2 separate regions of the Homo sapiens genome follow, and region 2 is linked to region 1. Evidence: fine-mapped expression QTL. Tissue or cell type: T cells. Region 1 holds a variant in brackets; the other region holds the start of a gene. All regions are shown on one strand. Distances are from middle to middle.

Evidence for each region. PIP is the estimated chance that this variant, and not a neighbour inherited with it, causes the effect.
Region 2: it holds the start of TRDMT1, and the variant in region 1 is fine-mapped to the expression of TRDMT1 in T cells (TOPMed, PIP above 0.99). The same link has a PIP of 0.9 or more in testis.

The regions. Positions count from the first base shown.
Region 1 is chr10:17,134,337-17,142,521 of GRCh38, forward strand. It overlaps TRDMT1 (tRNA aspartic acid methyltransferase 1), which reads right to left. Exons shown (of 11, transcript NM_004412.7): 11 at 3,000-8,185. Among named protein-coding and RNA genes, the nearest start is that of CUBN, 8.6 kb to the left of the region's middle. The variant A/C (reference allele first, on the strand shown) is at 4,340.
Region 2 is chr10:17,198,522-17,206,706 of GRCh38, forward strand. It overlaps TRDMT1 (tRNA aspartic acid methyltransferase 1), which reads right to left and starts at 3,151. Exons shown (of 11, transcript NM_004412.7): 1 at 3,050-3,151. The coding sequence starts at 3,113. RefSeq lists a silencer at 2,789-2,848.

The sequences.
Region 1 (8,185 bases):
TAAGTTTATAATGGTGTCTGCTGTACTGTTGATTTCCACTCATCAGCCTTTACTCTCTTTGACTTCTTCAGCAAGACACATGCAAATGTATTTTGCATTGTTGCTGATACCATACATGGTACATGGAATGAGGGTGGTATCCAAATGTTCAGTGTACTGCTCATCCATAATTCATGACCTGCTGACTTCTGCTCCGGTCCTGTCGCATGGTCTCACCTTTCTCTTTCTTCCTCATCCTGGCTCCACAGCCTTTCTCACTGAAGTCTTAGCTCCCTTCTCTCCCTCCCTCCCTCCTTCCAAAACCACCTGAAGGTGGTTGTAAGAATCAGAATGAACTACTCCTTTCTCCTGTTTTTTATGTTTTTCAAGATATCTCTGTGCAACCTTTTCTCCTTCTGTGACATTCACTTCTCCTCCCTTTATATTCTGAATGCTCAGTTCTTTGCTCCTCCTTTAAATAATTCCCACAGACTTCACAAATAAAAATTCCTGTGGTCATCAAAAACATACATGAAAGTTAATCCCAGTATACTAGAATTTCATATGAGGGGAATTTAAGGTTAAGAAGGGGTCATGGTAATCAGAATATGGCTAAGGACAAAAACAGAGGTTGGGGGAGGGGGAGGGAGAGAGAGAGAGAGAGAGAGAGAGAGAGACCTTTATTGGAGAACAATGGAGGAGAGAATTAACTCTGCCTGGAAGGGGAATGCAGGCTTCCCAGGAGTCCATCTGAGTAGTTCCCAGGTAGAATAGTAGAGTGAGGAGTTTCAGGCAGAGTAATGGTGTATACAAAGCTTTTCAGTAGAAAGTAGCTCAGCAGGGCTACAGCAGTGTCTATATGTGGGAGATGAAGTTTTAAAAATGAACAGGAAGCCAAATCAAGAAGGACTTTGAAATATCATTTTAATGAGCTTAGATTTTATTTACTTTTAATACTGCAGAATTATGAGAGTCTCTTAGGGAAGAGATTAACATGGTCATGTTTGCATTTTACAAGCAACCCTGTGGAGCCATGTCTGAGACCCAGAGTTGGTAAGGAGGTTAGAGTACATGTTTCCCCCCGCAGATGGAGTCTCACTCTGTCACCCAGGCTGGAGTGCAGTGGCGTGATCTCGGCTTACTGCAACCTCTGCCTCCTGGGTTCAGGCAATTCTCCTGCCTCCACCTCCTGAGTAGCTGGGATTGCAGGCACACACCACCACACCCGGCTAATTTTTGTATTATTATTAGAGACGGGGTTTCACCATGTTGGCCAGGGTGGTTTCGAACTCCTGACCTCATGATCGGCCCGCCTAGAGTACACTTAAAGAGATGTGACCTGGGGAGCCTTAAGGCAATGGACAGTCAGATGAGGAGACAGTGAGAAAGATATTCAGAAAACAGGCTACAGAAATACTTGGGTAGTTAATATTTCATTAGAACTATTAGAGGGGGAAGTTGGCCGGGTGCAGTGGCTCATGTCTGTAATCCTGACACTTTGGGAGGCCGAGGCAGGCAGATCACTTGAGGTCGGGAGTTCAAGATCAGCCTGGCCAACATGGTGAAACCCTGTCTCTACTAAAAATACAAAAATTAGCTAGGCGTGGTGGCGGGCACCTGTAGTCCCAGCTACTCAGGAGGCTGAGGCAGGAGAATCACTTGAACCTGGGAGGCGGAAGCTGCAGTGAACCATGATTGCACTATGCACTACTGCACTCCAGCCTGGGCAACAGAGGGAGACTCTGTCTCAAAAAAAAAAAAAAAAAAAAAAGAACAGAGGTTTCTTGCTTGGAAAATTGGAATTGGAAGGAAAGAGATGTCATTAATTGAGTAAGAGAATAATCAGGGGAAGAAGATTTTGGAGGAAAGATAGTTCAGATTTGGATACATAGAGCTCTAAGGAATATCAACCACTCTGCTGCTTCACAGGCCTCACTCTCTGCAAGTGGTTTAACCATCTAAGATGGGAGTGGGGAAGATGTAGAGATGGCGTAGACTAGAACCTTGCTACTCCAAGTGTGGTCCACAGACCCAGCACAGGCGTCACTCAGGAGCGTGTCAGAAATGCAAAATCTCAGGTGCTACTGCCAACCTGCTGAATTAGAATCTTCATTTTACAAAGATCCTCCTCCCTGCCAATTATCTGTACACTCATTAAAGTGACCTAGGAGCACAAAGACACCTTCACTCATGACGAGAGTCAAGTGGTCCCTGCCATTGCGTCTGCATTTCCATTTCTACATTTTTCTTAGATTGATTCTCCAATTTTTAAATAATTTTCTATTTTCCACCTCTTTGTCTTGTTTTGTTATACTTTCTGAGAAAGTATTTATCTTTTAATTTTCTAGTAATTTGTTTTAAAATGTTGCTATCATTTTAAATTTGAAAACCCCTTTTTTGATTTTTGCTCTTGTTTCGTAGTTGTAACATCATCTAGTAATTTTTAGATAGTTGCTTTTTGATGTTTTCTTGTTTCCTGTATGGGCTCTGTTTTCTCTAAGTTGTTTTTCTCCCATTTGTTTGCTGGTTTAGGTCTTTCTAATTCATGCTAGAGGCTTTCCTCAAATACCTATGGATCCTTATATGTTCATTGACATTTAAAAATAACACATTACAGAATGGATGGTAGGCTCTGTGTGCATGGGTGGCGATTATAACTGGTAGGCTTTGCCACAGAGCAACCGAATGGCAAACTGACAATTTCACTGGGGAACCCCAAATGCCCATCTTTGAAGGCATCTTGCCCTGGAGACGTTCAGAAAAAAATTCTCCAGTCTTCTACCTGGACTAGTAGAGGTGACTGGAGATTTTATACTAAGTGTACAGACTTTACTTACCCTCTTATTTTCTGTATTTTTCTCCAAATTCTTGAAGAGCATCTCATTGCCACATTAGTATATTTCACTGCTGTTTTTTATACCAATGTTCACTTTTTATTCCTACCAGCTTTATCTAAATTCCATTGTTTTAGAGGCTTAATAAGCATTTAGTGAAGACATACGAAGTCCTTGACCATGGGGGAAATTTGAAAGAAGTAAATTTATTGACCTTCTCTGATTTACAATAAAGTCGTAATGTACAAATCTGGAGAGCCAGAGTTAGGCAACATTACAAAGACAAGTGTGACAAGATGGCACAGATACACAGTAGCATGCTGTTAAGTAAACAGCAGGTACCAAACTAGGAAAGATGTCCAAGGCCCAGTATGGGCACACTATAGAAAGTGGTTCCACTGGCCGGGCTCAGTGCCTCGTACCTGTAATCCCAGCACTTTGGGAGGCCAAGGCGGGCTGATCATTTGAGGTCAGGAATTTGAGACCAGCCAAAATGGTGAAACCCTGTCTCTACTAAAAATACAAAAAAATTAGCCGGGCATGGTGGCACACACCTGTAGTCCCAGCTACTCAGGAGGCGAGGCTGAGGCAGGAGAATCGCTTGAACCCAGGAGGTGGAGGTTGCAGCAAGCCGAGAGCCACTGCACTCCAGCCTGGGTGACAGAGCGAAACTCTGCCAAAAAAAAAAGAAAAAAAAAAAAAGGTTGTTCCACTTGTCCAGCAGGGTGACCTTGAAGGAAAGTGGCTGGGTAAAGGAAGAGACATCGACAGAAGGCCTTAAGTGGCAGGTTAAAGAATGTTGATTTAATCTTTTTAATAGGGGGATGTTCTTTTATCTTGAGTGCAATAATCCTTATGTGATATTTCTGCTAGGCCAGCTGAATTTATCTGGAGGACTGGATCAATGTGGGAGTCATAAAAATGAGGAGAGGGTTGAGATGCAGAGGTGCGTTGGAGGATGGACAAATTGGCAAGATTCTCACACCCCTAATGCTAGCTCCCATTACATGTTATAGCTTCAATCTGGCTTTTGTGCTTTTTTTAGTCCCTTTTCATTTTCATATCAGTTTAAAACAGAACACTGTAGAATTAATCTGGTTTTTAGTCATTAATGGAAACATTTGTGAATATAACGATCTTTTAACCTTCATGACACTTAATTCATTCTCTTTTTCAGGGACGTAACATTGCTTAAAAGATACATTTACATATGTCAGTTTTGTGATTTTCTGCAAAATTTCAGGGCAATATAACATTGTTCCAATTCTTTCATTTTCCATGAAGGATTACATAAAATAATGATGGAAATCAAGGTACATTTAAAACTATTCTTTTGCTCATTTCATGGGAAGTGCATTACCATGTAGGAAATTACCAAGTCTACTACTGTGATGAACTGATCTTTTTGAAAGCAGTGTGGTCTTGGCTCAAGGCACATAAAGCAGACATTTGTTCTCCATGCTCATTATTACAATGACTACAATTATCTTTGAGTAGAATGAAAAAGAATTATGAGTTAATCATTA[A/C]CATTTAAATTGCTGAGGTTTGGCAGAGCTTTTCCTGAGAAAGCAGATTGTTGAGAGTTTGGAGAACTTTTCCACTTTTTTCAAGTTTTTTTTTTTAAGTAATATAATCCCTTCATAAACAATGAGAAAAAAATAACGAAATTCAAATCCAGAGGGACAAACGCAATAGGGGAATAGGGCTTTGGAGGAGGAGCACAGGGGTGTTCGTGGCACATGTATACACACGTGTGCACACACAGCTTCCTAATTGTAACTCAAGCAAATGTTACAGAAAACATAAAATATGCACTGGAGGGTCTCGCATCATTATAAGGATCAGCCATAGCAGAGGAGATACTAATTGCTAGGATTAAAGGCTCCAAAAGCTAGTAAAAAAATCAACAGAGCTTTCTCTACCTCCAACAGCTCCCGGAATGGGGACTTCAGCAGCTCCATTGGATTAATCCAAGCTTGGTTTCCAAGGTGTGAAGCAATGAAGCGGAGTTTACCATAGGTGAACCCTCCTGCCATCCTGTTCCAAATCAACCTAAAAAGGACAAAATGAGTTTTCTACTTGGTGACCCCTAAAATTCCCCAAACAAGGCGGTGAAGTTAAATATTTAGACACCATTCATACGATAATCAAAGGAAAATGTCTGATTGCACTCAGACTTCAGCATGAATGACAGAAGAAATGTAGGTGGTAAATAACTGCAAACAACTTATATTGGATCTGATCTTAGGAAAAGGGGAAAGTACATCTTTGTGATGATATTTTGTGTTCTATTAGGGGAGGAGAGCAAGAGAGGTGAGGATGTCACCACCGATGGGGGGAAGAAAAAAACAGTTTGGTTCTCTTCTGGGAAGGAAAATGAAAAAAAAGAAAAAGAAAACAAAGTTTGGGGATACCTGGCACTCTTCAGACTCTGCCTCTTGTACCTTTAATTGGGAAGATAGACGCAGAAGCAGTACACACAGGCATCTTTATCTTGTGAGAGGAAGCTTTGCATTACGGATGTGATTTACGGTTAGAGGAGTGATTTAACAAGGCTGATGCCTTACAAAGGGGCATCATTCCCAGGGGATTTGTTAATTGAAGTGCCACATAGATCTGTGGGAAGATTTAAGGTGTTGTCATCAATGGCAGAAAGGATGAGATGACCTCACTTCTGTCTTTTTCAATGCCGTTATTCTAAGATCTATAAAAAACAACACCTTTGTATGCTTTCTTTATAGTGACTTGGACCATATTTGTTACGGAAGTACTGCTAAATCAAGCTTTGTCAACAATTCCTAGACTATGTTTAGAAGAGACATAAACAATACCCTAGGAGTTATACACAATTTTGGCATTAAATATTCTTCCAGTAACATCTAGTGTGCTTTTTTTTTTTTTTTTTTTTTTTTTTGAGACAGAGTCTTGCCCTGTCACCCAGGCTGGAATGATGCAATGGCACGACCTCGGCTCACTGCAACCTCCGCCTCCCAGGTTCCAGTGAGTCTCCTGCCTCAGCCTCCTGAATAGCTGAGATTACAGGCACATGCCACCACATCCAGCTATTTTTTTTTTTTTTTTGTACCTTTAGTAGAGATAGGGTTTTATCATGGCCAGGCTGGTCTTGAACTCCTGACCTCATGGTCCGTTCACTTCGACCTCCCAAAGTGCTGGGATTACAGGTGTGAGGCACCATGCCCAGCACTTCTTTTCTTTTTGGCTGACAGAATTATTCAAACAATCCCCCAAGCCATGAAAGAACCTACAATTCTATTACCATACTCAGCATACTCATATCTAAGTCAGTTAATTGGACAATTATTTATTAGGTACCCACTATCTGTCAGCATCTGAGAAAGGTACTGAGGATACACAAATGGGCAAGATGTAGCTTCTGCTCTGGAGGAAAAAAGTCAGCAGGGGAGGGGATTATATTACATAGCATCAAGATGCAAATGAGGTAGCAACTTACAAGCTTACAATGAACAGACTCTACAGTAAAGACTTGAAACTGAGTGTTTTGAAAGAAAGAACATTTTAAATGATAAAACTAATATTATGCCACATTGATGAAAACAAAAACAACAAAAAAGATCACATTCAATTGAAAAATATAAACAAGAAAAATTAAAATGCTATTACTCTAACATAACTGCTATCATTATTTTATTCCAATCTATTTTTAGATGAATAATTTCACAGTTATAATCATTAGCTATACGTTAGGTGTCTTCCTTTCATCTTTGATTATTTCACATATCAGATAAGCCTAATTCCATGTTAACTACCTGCTCGCCCTAATAATTGTAAAGAGCTGCATAGAGGTATATGTGTATCGATACATATATAGATAAAACAGAGATCTCTTGAAGGATAGTTTGGCTAGATATAGAATTCATAGTTGACAATGCCACCTCCTTCTGGTCCTCATGGTTTTGGATGAGACATCTACTGTCATCCAAATTGTGTCCCCCGCCCCATGGCAACGTGTCATTTTTCTCCAGCTGCTTTTATTTATTTATTTATTTTTTTGAGACGGAGTCTCACTCTGTCACCAGGCTGGAGTGCAGTGGCACGATCTCAGCTCACTGCAGTCTCCGCTCCTGGGTTCAAGCCATTCCCCTGCCTCAGCCTCCCGAGTAGCTGGGACTACAGGCATGCACCACCATGCCCGGCTAATTTTTTTGATTTTAGTAGAGACGGGGTTTCACCATGTTGGAAAGGATGGTCTCTATCTCCTGACCTTATGATCTGCCCCCCTTCGCCTCCTAAAGTGCTGGGATTACAGGTGTCAGCCACCGCGCCCAGCCTCCAGCTGCTTTTAAGGTTTTGCCAAATTTGGGATGTTTCCAGCCATTATTTAAATGCTCTTTCAGCTCCATTTTTTTCCCCTCTACTTCTGGCACCCCAAACATATAAATGTTGGTTCTTCTGTTATTGTCCCACAGGTCCCCAAGGCTCTGTTAATTTTTTTTGTCAGCCTATCTTTGCCCTATCATTTAGATCAGGTAAATTCTACTGATCCGTCCTTAGGTTCACTGATTTCTATCTTCTGTCATTTCCTCTCTACTACTGATCTCAAGTTTAGCAAAAGATATAAATGTACAGATTCAAGAAGGTGAATGAACACCAAACAGGATATTACATTCACTTTGAAATATCTGCCACTTTGAAAGAAATTCATGCCAAGACACATCATAATTAAATTTCTGAAAATAAAGTTAATGTAACAGACAAAATGTCCAGGATCTAATCAAATTATCTGTTACCACAGAATGTTTTCTATTTTGGTTATTTTTCAGTTACATAACTGCCATTTATTTCTATTCTTAAAAATTGGCATATAGTGCACCTACCATAATGGTTCTTTTGTTAACTTCTATTTCTTTGCTGAGCTTTTCTATTTTTTGTGGCAAGACAACTTGTAATTACCTGTTGAAGCATTTTTATGAGAGTTGCTTAAAATCCTTGTCAAGTAATTCCAACATCTGATTTGTCTCAGTGTTGTCATCTGTTGACTGTCATTTCTTATTCAAGTTGTGATTTTTCTGGTTCTTGGTATGACAGGCTATTTTACATCGTATCCTGAACCTTTTGTCTATTATTTTAATCTTTTATTTTTAGTAGGCAGTCACTCCATTTGTGTTTAGCATGCAAGCCCTGGCTTAGTTTTTGTGGGCTATGAGTCCAGTGGTAATTTAGTTTTTAAAGCCTTTGCAGTGTTATTTTGGTCTGCTTGGTTTATCTGGTGCTGCTGGGGTTCCCGAATGGTCCTTCATGATGCTACTTTAGGGAAAGAAGGATTTTCTCCCAAGCCAGGTCCCATGGTATCTCTGGGAGAAGGGAGTCTCAGGCTCAGGGTAATAAAAAAT
Region 2 (8,185 bases), 64 kb after region 1:
ATTATTCTAAGTGAAATAAGCCAGACACAAAAGGACAAATGTATTATTCTACTTATGTGTGGTACGCAGAGTAGACAAGTTCATAAAGACAAAGCAGAATCAAGGTTACCAGGGACTGGGGGGAAAGGGAATTTGGAGTTATTGTTTAACAGGTACAGAGCTCTGTTTGAGATGATTAAAAAGTTTTAGAAATGAACAAGGGTGATGGTTGCACAACATTGTGAATGTACTTAATGCCATTGAACTATACATTTAAAAATAGTTTAAATGATACATTTCATGTTGTGTTTTACCACAATAAAAAAATTCCATTATGAACCTTATCTAGAAATCAGTCAAAAATGAAGTTCAATATTATTCCTTTTGTGCTGCTTATTATATTATTTAATGTATAGATCCAAGGAAGTTAGTAGTTCTAACCAGAACAACGGCAACATAGCATAGTTAAAAGGTCAGGTAGGTAGACCTAGGTTAAAATACCAGTTCTACCGCTAACTAGTTTATTACATACTTAAAAAAGGACCTGAATTTAAAAGATCCCTAATAAACACTAAAGTTAGCTGCTGTTATTAGTCTTTATTATTATATTAAAAACCACCTGGAAAGGAGCAATGCATTTTATTACAGGTAAATTTTAAACTTTAGTACATCAAATAAGTGAACATGGGAAGGCAAACAAGTGTGGAAAAATATTTGCATCAATATGATTAAGAGTCTATATCCCTAATATGCAGATTTCCACCGAAAAGATGAGAGAGCAGAGAGGTACAGGGAGGCAGGAAAGTTGCTTTGGATCACAGGGTCAGCCAGGGAAGGCCAATATATGAACTAAGACATGAAATGTGAACCGAAGCTAGAGTGAAAAAGTCTGGGGTTAGGGAGCACTCTGGATGAGGCAACAGCAAAAGCAAAGGCCAGAACATCGAAGAACTTCGAGGGTTTGAGGAGTAGAGAGAAAGAAAAACAGTAAGCCTCGACAAGAAAGGCTGAGGAAAGAATTCAGGGAATCGTTTAATTAGAATTTCAGCTTTGGGTGTTGACGGTGAAGCGGGATGCTGAAGGGAGAGTGGCAGATAAAATTGAAGAGAAGACAGAAGCCAGAACTCACAAGCCTGTTAAGATGGGACTGTGATTACAATCTCAAAAGCAACCATTTAAGCAACGAAGTAACATGATCTGGTTTACTGTGCAAATGATCATGCTGCCTGCTAGAAGGAAAACGGAGTAGGGAGGCAGAATGGAAGTAAGGAGAGAAGCTGGGAAGCTATGTTAATAATTTAAATTACAGAACTTAATAGCTTGGATTCACAACAGTAGAACTGGCAATAGAAAAACGTGTACAAATTCACATTGCATTGGCTAATAGGAGAGAAAATATTTTACTCTTTCATTAATCCCAAAACTGTCACTTAAAATTACACAATTTCCCCTAACAAATTAGCAAGGATTAAAAATTGATAATACATATCCCTGATGAATATGTAGTTAAGGCACTCAAAAATCTCTGAAAAGCAATTTGCTATCCTCTCTCTCAAAAGCCTTAAAAATTCTGTTTTTCACTTAGTAACTAGCACACAGTTAAGTCTTACTGTTGAATTAATTCCAACAGTTAGTAAACATGCTTAAAGAGAAAATCGGCATTATGCTCAAGAATGTAACTGTAGCACACTGTACTTGCAAAAAAACTGAAGAATGATCTAAATATTCGACACTTAAGGAATGGCTGAATTACAGCTTATGATAAAGTACTAAGCAATTCATTAAGGAGTTTCAAGATATGGGAAAACGCGGACATTATATCACTTTAGAGAATTAACAAAGAGTAAATAGTACTAGAGTTTTGCTTTGATGCTGCTAAGTTTTAAAATGAGAAATAAAGATAGCCGGCAAACAAGTACTAAAAACTTAATGATCATTAACCTAGTCTAGAATTGAAACTCAATAAATCTGCTCAAAAAACTTATACGCTAAACCCATTAAATATTGTCTGTATCTTACAGTTACTCTTGTTACTCTTGGTCCTAAATAAGGAAGCAGGGAAGTTTCAGTTCGGTGGTTGTCTTAGTAATTTAAGAATAAACATGCACCTTCAAAGCCTGTTTGTCATTCTGTATCCCCAGCTCCTAGCACAAAATCTGGCACAGAATAGGAGCTCAATAAATAATTTTGAGTGAATATCACCAAAAGTAAAACTTTCAGTTCCAACTCAGCATGAAAGAAATCAAAAACCTCAAAATCAAAGACGTGCATAAAAGTAATAGTTTGCTTGATAATATCTCGTGATGTCGTTTTAAAGTAATAGTGATAATAATGTATAATATTTGGAGTGGTTACAATGTATCAGGCACTAACAAGCACTTGACAGACTTTAATCCTTATAATAATCATTCTCTTTTAAAACCAGGAAACAGGTTCATCACTGTTCACGAAGTAGCCCAACGTCACACTGCCACCAAGCTGGAACTCAGTTCTCTGGCATCTAAACGCAGAACTACAGAAGACACGTTTCTTTCCAACGATCAGACGTCCAAGTTCTTCAAGCTTCCTCTACCATCCTATTTAGCATTCGCAAACTTCTACCTTGAATTGTAGCTATTATCCCTTCCAAGATCCATCTCTCACCAGGGGAGCCCCTGACACTCCCTCCCTCCCCAGCTGGGAAGCCCCCCAGGATGAAGGACCGAGTCTCCATGCTTCTCGGTGGCTGCACACTTAGAATGGGGGCTTGGCACCAGGCGAGGGTCTCGCCCCTTTGATACCCTTTGAGGTTGATTTACTGCCTTGCGAATCCCGACTCCCAACTGGGCCCTTTGAGGCGCCATGTGCGGCCCCTCGAGCCAGACTCGGCGCCAGGAGAAGGGAGTCAGCGTCTGGAGGGGTGGACACGGCGGCGCGCAGGAGCTGTTTCCAGGACAACCGAGGGCCGCCCCACAGTGTCCGCCCCACAGTGTCCGCCCCTTGCGTCTCGCCGCTCCGCCCCTTCCCGGCGCGGGTGCTCCAACCAGCCCCCGTGAGCGAATAGAGAGAGGGGTGCTAGATGGACTCTCACCTCTCAGCGCGTGGTGCATGCCGCCCACGCCGCTGTATAGCTCCAGCACCCGCAGGGGCTCCATCCCCGCGCCTCAGCCGCCGCAGCCCCGGAGCTAGGCCTGCCGGTCCGTCGCTCCTCCTCCCTCCATCGCGCCGCTCCCTCAGCCTCTGGTTCCGCGGCGTTTCAGTTCCCCCGTCTCCTACCGCTCCAGGCTCAGGGCTTCAGAGGGCCTCGCGGCCTGGGGATTGGCAAGGGTCTAGAGGGGAACAAAGGACGGAAAACAATAAGGCTTCCCGAATGAATGGCAGCCACTCTGTAGCCTGATTTACGCTCCATTTCCTTCTTTGGTGTCAGGGGCCTTGATTGGAAAAGAAATCCAGAGTTCAGTAAAGGGGAGAAAACTGCCTTGGTTTCCAAGTGAATTAACACTGGTTAGAAGCCAGAAAAAAATCATTTTTCAGACAAGCTGCTTTTCTGTCACTTAGAAGCCTGAACATTCAAACATTCTTTCCACAGTGTGCCTTGTTTCCTGCCTGCCCTGGGTCAATAGAGAGAAATTAGACCAGCCTCTCCCCTAGAGAAGATTCCAGAATTATAAGTAAGGACACAAGTCCACTCGCAGCAGAGAAAGCCCTGTGTGCGTGCTGATAATACAGAGGATGTTTGTTGTGTCTATTAGTGGGGTTAATTATGTTTTAGCTTGGAAATTACACCTACATAGAATACACAGTGAATATCATGTAGGATTATTTATGGGTCTTTAAGTGCTATGGCCTTGATTCCTCAGGATGATCCAGTAACCAACTGTTAGAGGCTCATGTTGACGAAAAAAGCCAAACTCCGTAAAATGTTTGAAGAGGTTTATTCTGAGCACAAGGTGAGGACCGTGACCCATGACACAACCCCACAGGGTCCTGACAACATGTACCCAAGGTGGTTGGGCTACAGCTTGGGATTATATGGTTTTAGGGAGACATAAGGACATTAACTGGTATATGGAAGGTGTACTTAGTTTGGTCCATAAAGATGGGACAACTCAAAAAGGGGAAGGATTCCAGGTTACAGGTGGATTCAAAGATTTTCTGATTGGCAGTTGGTTGAAAGAGTTAAGTTGTGACCTAAAGACCTGGAATCAATAGAAAGGAATGTGTCTGGGTTAAGATAAGGTGGAGACCAAGGTTCTTATTATGTAGACGAAGTCTCATACGTAACAGGCTTCAGAGAGAATAATTGGCAAATGTCTCTTATCATGTGTAAAAAGATGCCAGACTCTTAGTTAAATATCTCTTGGATCAGGAAAAGACCTGGAAAGGGAAAGGGAGTCTCTATAGAATGTAGATTTTCCCCACAAGAGATGGCTGTGTAGGGCCATTTCAAAAAGTGTCAAAGAAATTTATTTTAGGGTAAAATGCTTTGATTTAGGGCCTGCTATCTTTCATGTGATGCTATACTAGAGTCATGTTGGAATTTTGGTATCTTATTGCTAAGAAGAGTCTGTTATGTCGGTATGAAGATCTCTTGTTTTAATAATAATACTGGTCAGTTGTGCCTGAACTCCAAAGAGAGGAAAGTATAATGAGGCATGTCTGACTTCCCTTTCCCAGCATGGCCTGAACTAGTTTTTCAAGTTTCTTTGGAATCCGCTTGGTGGAGGTGTTCAATCAGTCAGTTGGGGGGAGCTTAGAAATTTTGTGGGGGGAGCGGTGTTTACAGTCAATTATAAATAAAAATAATGTACCCATATGGAGGATAGAAAATGTTCCCGTTGTGAAGTGTTTTTCTCTTTGTTCCCAACACTGCCACAGGTTTTTGTTAGGGGGAACTTGGGGGTACCACTTGTAATAACAATAACTGATTTGTTAGAAATGTTGCATGCCTGCTAATGTAATGCTGTTAACAAATAAAAGTATAACCACTGCATCCAAATTATAACATTCACTGGTTCCTTTTGATGTGGTCTATGAAATTAACTTTTTAAATTGTACATGTGCATTGGCCACGTGCTTTGCTTTTTGTTAGTCACTTTCAGATAAGAAGAGGTGTATGGTAGAAAGATACCAGATAACTCAGCTTTAGCCCTGGCGTTGCCAGTTAACTGATTGTGTGACTTTGAGATGACCCTGGTTTCCTCATCTGTAAGATAAAGCAGAAGGGAACAGAAAGAGATGGATTGTTGAGGGTGTTTTAGTTCCAAGAAATGAATTCATGGCTGAATTCAAATTAGAAAAAATGAGACCTGATTTGGCAACGTGTTAATTATTTATTGAATTTGAAATATGTAGAAAGAAGACTTGTTACCTGCTTTAAGCAAATGTACTCTTAAACTAACTCAGCTTACAGAAACCATGTACACACTGACATATGTATAATGCATGAAGCAAACTTTTTAAATATTTATTACATATAGTACCAGAAATAAACATCAGTACATAAAATGTAAAGGGAACTATATAGTCACAGTGATTTATATATAGCCAAAAACCAATATATTAAACAAATCTGGAATTTTCAGCATTCGTGCTATAAATCAAAATAAATGTGACAAAAGACCTTACCTGTAGGGGAGAGACAGTACAGACACATGGCAGAGTTAATGAAAAATACCAACCTCCTGAGAGGAAGGAGCCTCAAACCCCTTCCCCACACAGGCTGATTACAAACTGTTTACTCTGATACTTAAGGATCTTCACGGTATAGCCCTGAACTTACTTTTCTTCCTTAACTTTTTTCTCTTCTTGAACTCTGCTGTAAATGAAACTACTTGGTGTTCCCCAAACATGCCCTTCAGTTCACTTCTCTGCTTTTGTTCTTTCCCTTCTCTAGAAATCTCCTAGACTTCTTTAAGACCTATACTTCAAGTGGAACCTTCCTTCTAGACTCCCAGCCTAAAATATCCTGACACATTGCAACTCCTAGGTCTCCCTCATCTTCTGAAATACAGATCACCCTTGTACTTGTCATTCAATCCTTCCAGTTATTCTAGCCCAATTGTCACCTCATATGTGCCACATCTTTATGTATTATTTCCTCTCTGAGGCTTATCTCGTGATAATTATTTCAAGAATGAAAACTCTCTCCATAATCATAATTTACAACTATCTCCATGGAAGCATCTGTAGATATTAGGCCCCCTGGGATTATGTATGCAAATGTCTTCCAATCACTGGCACAAATTACATGATTTGGTGGAAGAGTGGGAGGGCTGGTGGAGGTGGTACAATAGGGAGTAGCTGAGGAGAAAAGTGAGGTGAGCAGAATGAAAGTAAATATTGATTACTTTTTCCGAAAGCAAATCCCGAAGGCTCATAAGAGAGAAGAAAAACTCTCTAGTCCCATAATTTCCCATAAAGTCATCCTCAATGATATGTACAATACTATTTATATTTTAATTAGAGAAACTAGACATACTTTTAAAAAAGCAAGCAAATATCAAAACTGGAATGTTAGTATATTTACTACATTTTCTCTAAAAGCAGAAAATGCGTTTCTTTAAAAAAAAAACACATTAATTAACACCTGGAAAATAAAGGCACATATAAAGCATATCAGAAATAATTAAGGGGCACATCACAATACTAAGGACCATAGTAAAAGAGTAATAGCACACACTCAATTATTGAAGGCACTGGGCTTGGAATCTAATGACATTTTTATCTTCTACCCTTATGTGTTCTTTCACTGATCATTAATATCTAATTAAATGAAATAAAGTTTTCCAAGTGCTGAAAATGCTTTTTCAATCATCTTTGAATTTCCGTGATCCAGGCCACTCTCTTTCTCAGCAAAACATGATGTGGATTCCTATACAGGCTCGCTTACAGTCTGAGGACACCCTGCTTATGCCAATTTCAGTCATGAATAAGTTGCATTCTGGCTTTATACCAAAAAAGAAGGTCTTTATGAATTGAATGGAAAAAGAAAAAGTCATATGAGAAGAAACTGACTATAAGAAATGTCCTCAAGAGAGTAAATTTTACAAATTTGAATTGGAAAGACCAACAGAGCTCATTTACCACTTCTGAGCTCCCACTTATTTGAGAATGCCTTCTACTATTTTCCTGATCCATGGGCAATAAGCCTCAGCTTGCAAACTGCTAATGAAATGTTTCATGGTGAACAGCTGGAATTATTAGAAAATTCTTCCTTATAGTCTCCTAAATTCCAGTTTCTTTTAGATTTGCCCTCTGCACTGATTTTAAAGAATTATTCCTCTTCTGGCTGGGCACTGTGGCTCATGCCTGTAATCCCAGCACTTTGGGAGGCAGAGGCGGGTGGATTACCTGAGGTCAGGAGTTCAAGACTAGCTTGGCCAACATGGCGAAACCCATCTCTACTACAAATACAAAAATTAGTCGGTTGGGGGCTGGGTGAGGTGGCTCACACCTGTAATCCCAGCATTTGGGAGGCAGAGGCGGGTGGATCACCTGATGTCAGGAGTTCGAGACCAGCCTGACCAACATGGTGAAACCCCGTCTCTACTAAAAATACAAAAATTAGTGGCTCATGGTGGTGCATGCCTGTAATCCCTGCTCCTCGGGAGGCTGAGGCAGGAGAATCACTGAACCTGGGAGGCAGAGGTTGCAGTGAGCCAAAATTGTGCCATTGCACTCCAGCCTGGTCGACAAGAGTGAAACTCCATCTCAAAAAAATATATATATATTTTTTCTCTTCTATAATGATTTGCTTTGTGGTTAAGAATGCAAGCTTCAGAGCCACAGTGTAGACAGGAAGCACACGTCTGCTGCTGCTTCTCCCTAGCTAGGTGACGTGGAGAAAGTCACTACATCCTTTTTTGAGCCAAAGTGCACCTCTAAAATGTATAAATAATAGGACATGCAGTTGCTATGAAGATTAAAAGCCCTTAGCCCGGTGCCTAGCACAATACAAATAAATGTATGTTAAATAAAGAGTGCCTGTGCAATGACATCCTCTAAGTGATGCATTCTCAGTCCTGTCGGCTATGAACTATCACTTGGCATGATTCAGATCCCTCGCATTAGTCACAGTCCAGCTTGGTGATACCCATTTTAGGAGCCAACACTGCATGAAACAAACTGAACATAGATCAGCATATGGTAGAGCGAACCAGATGGCTACAGACATTCAAGGGCTCTAGGGCAGCTTTAGGCCCTGTAGGAAGTGTTCAGGGTTCCT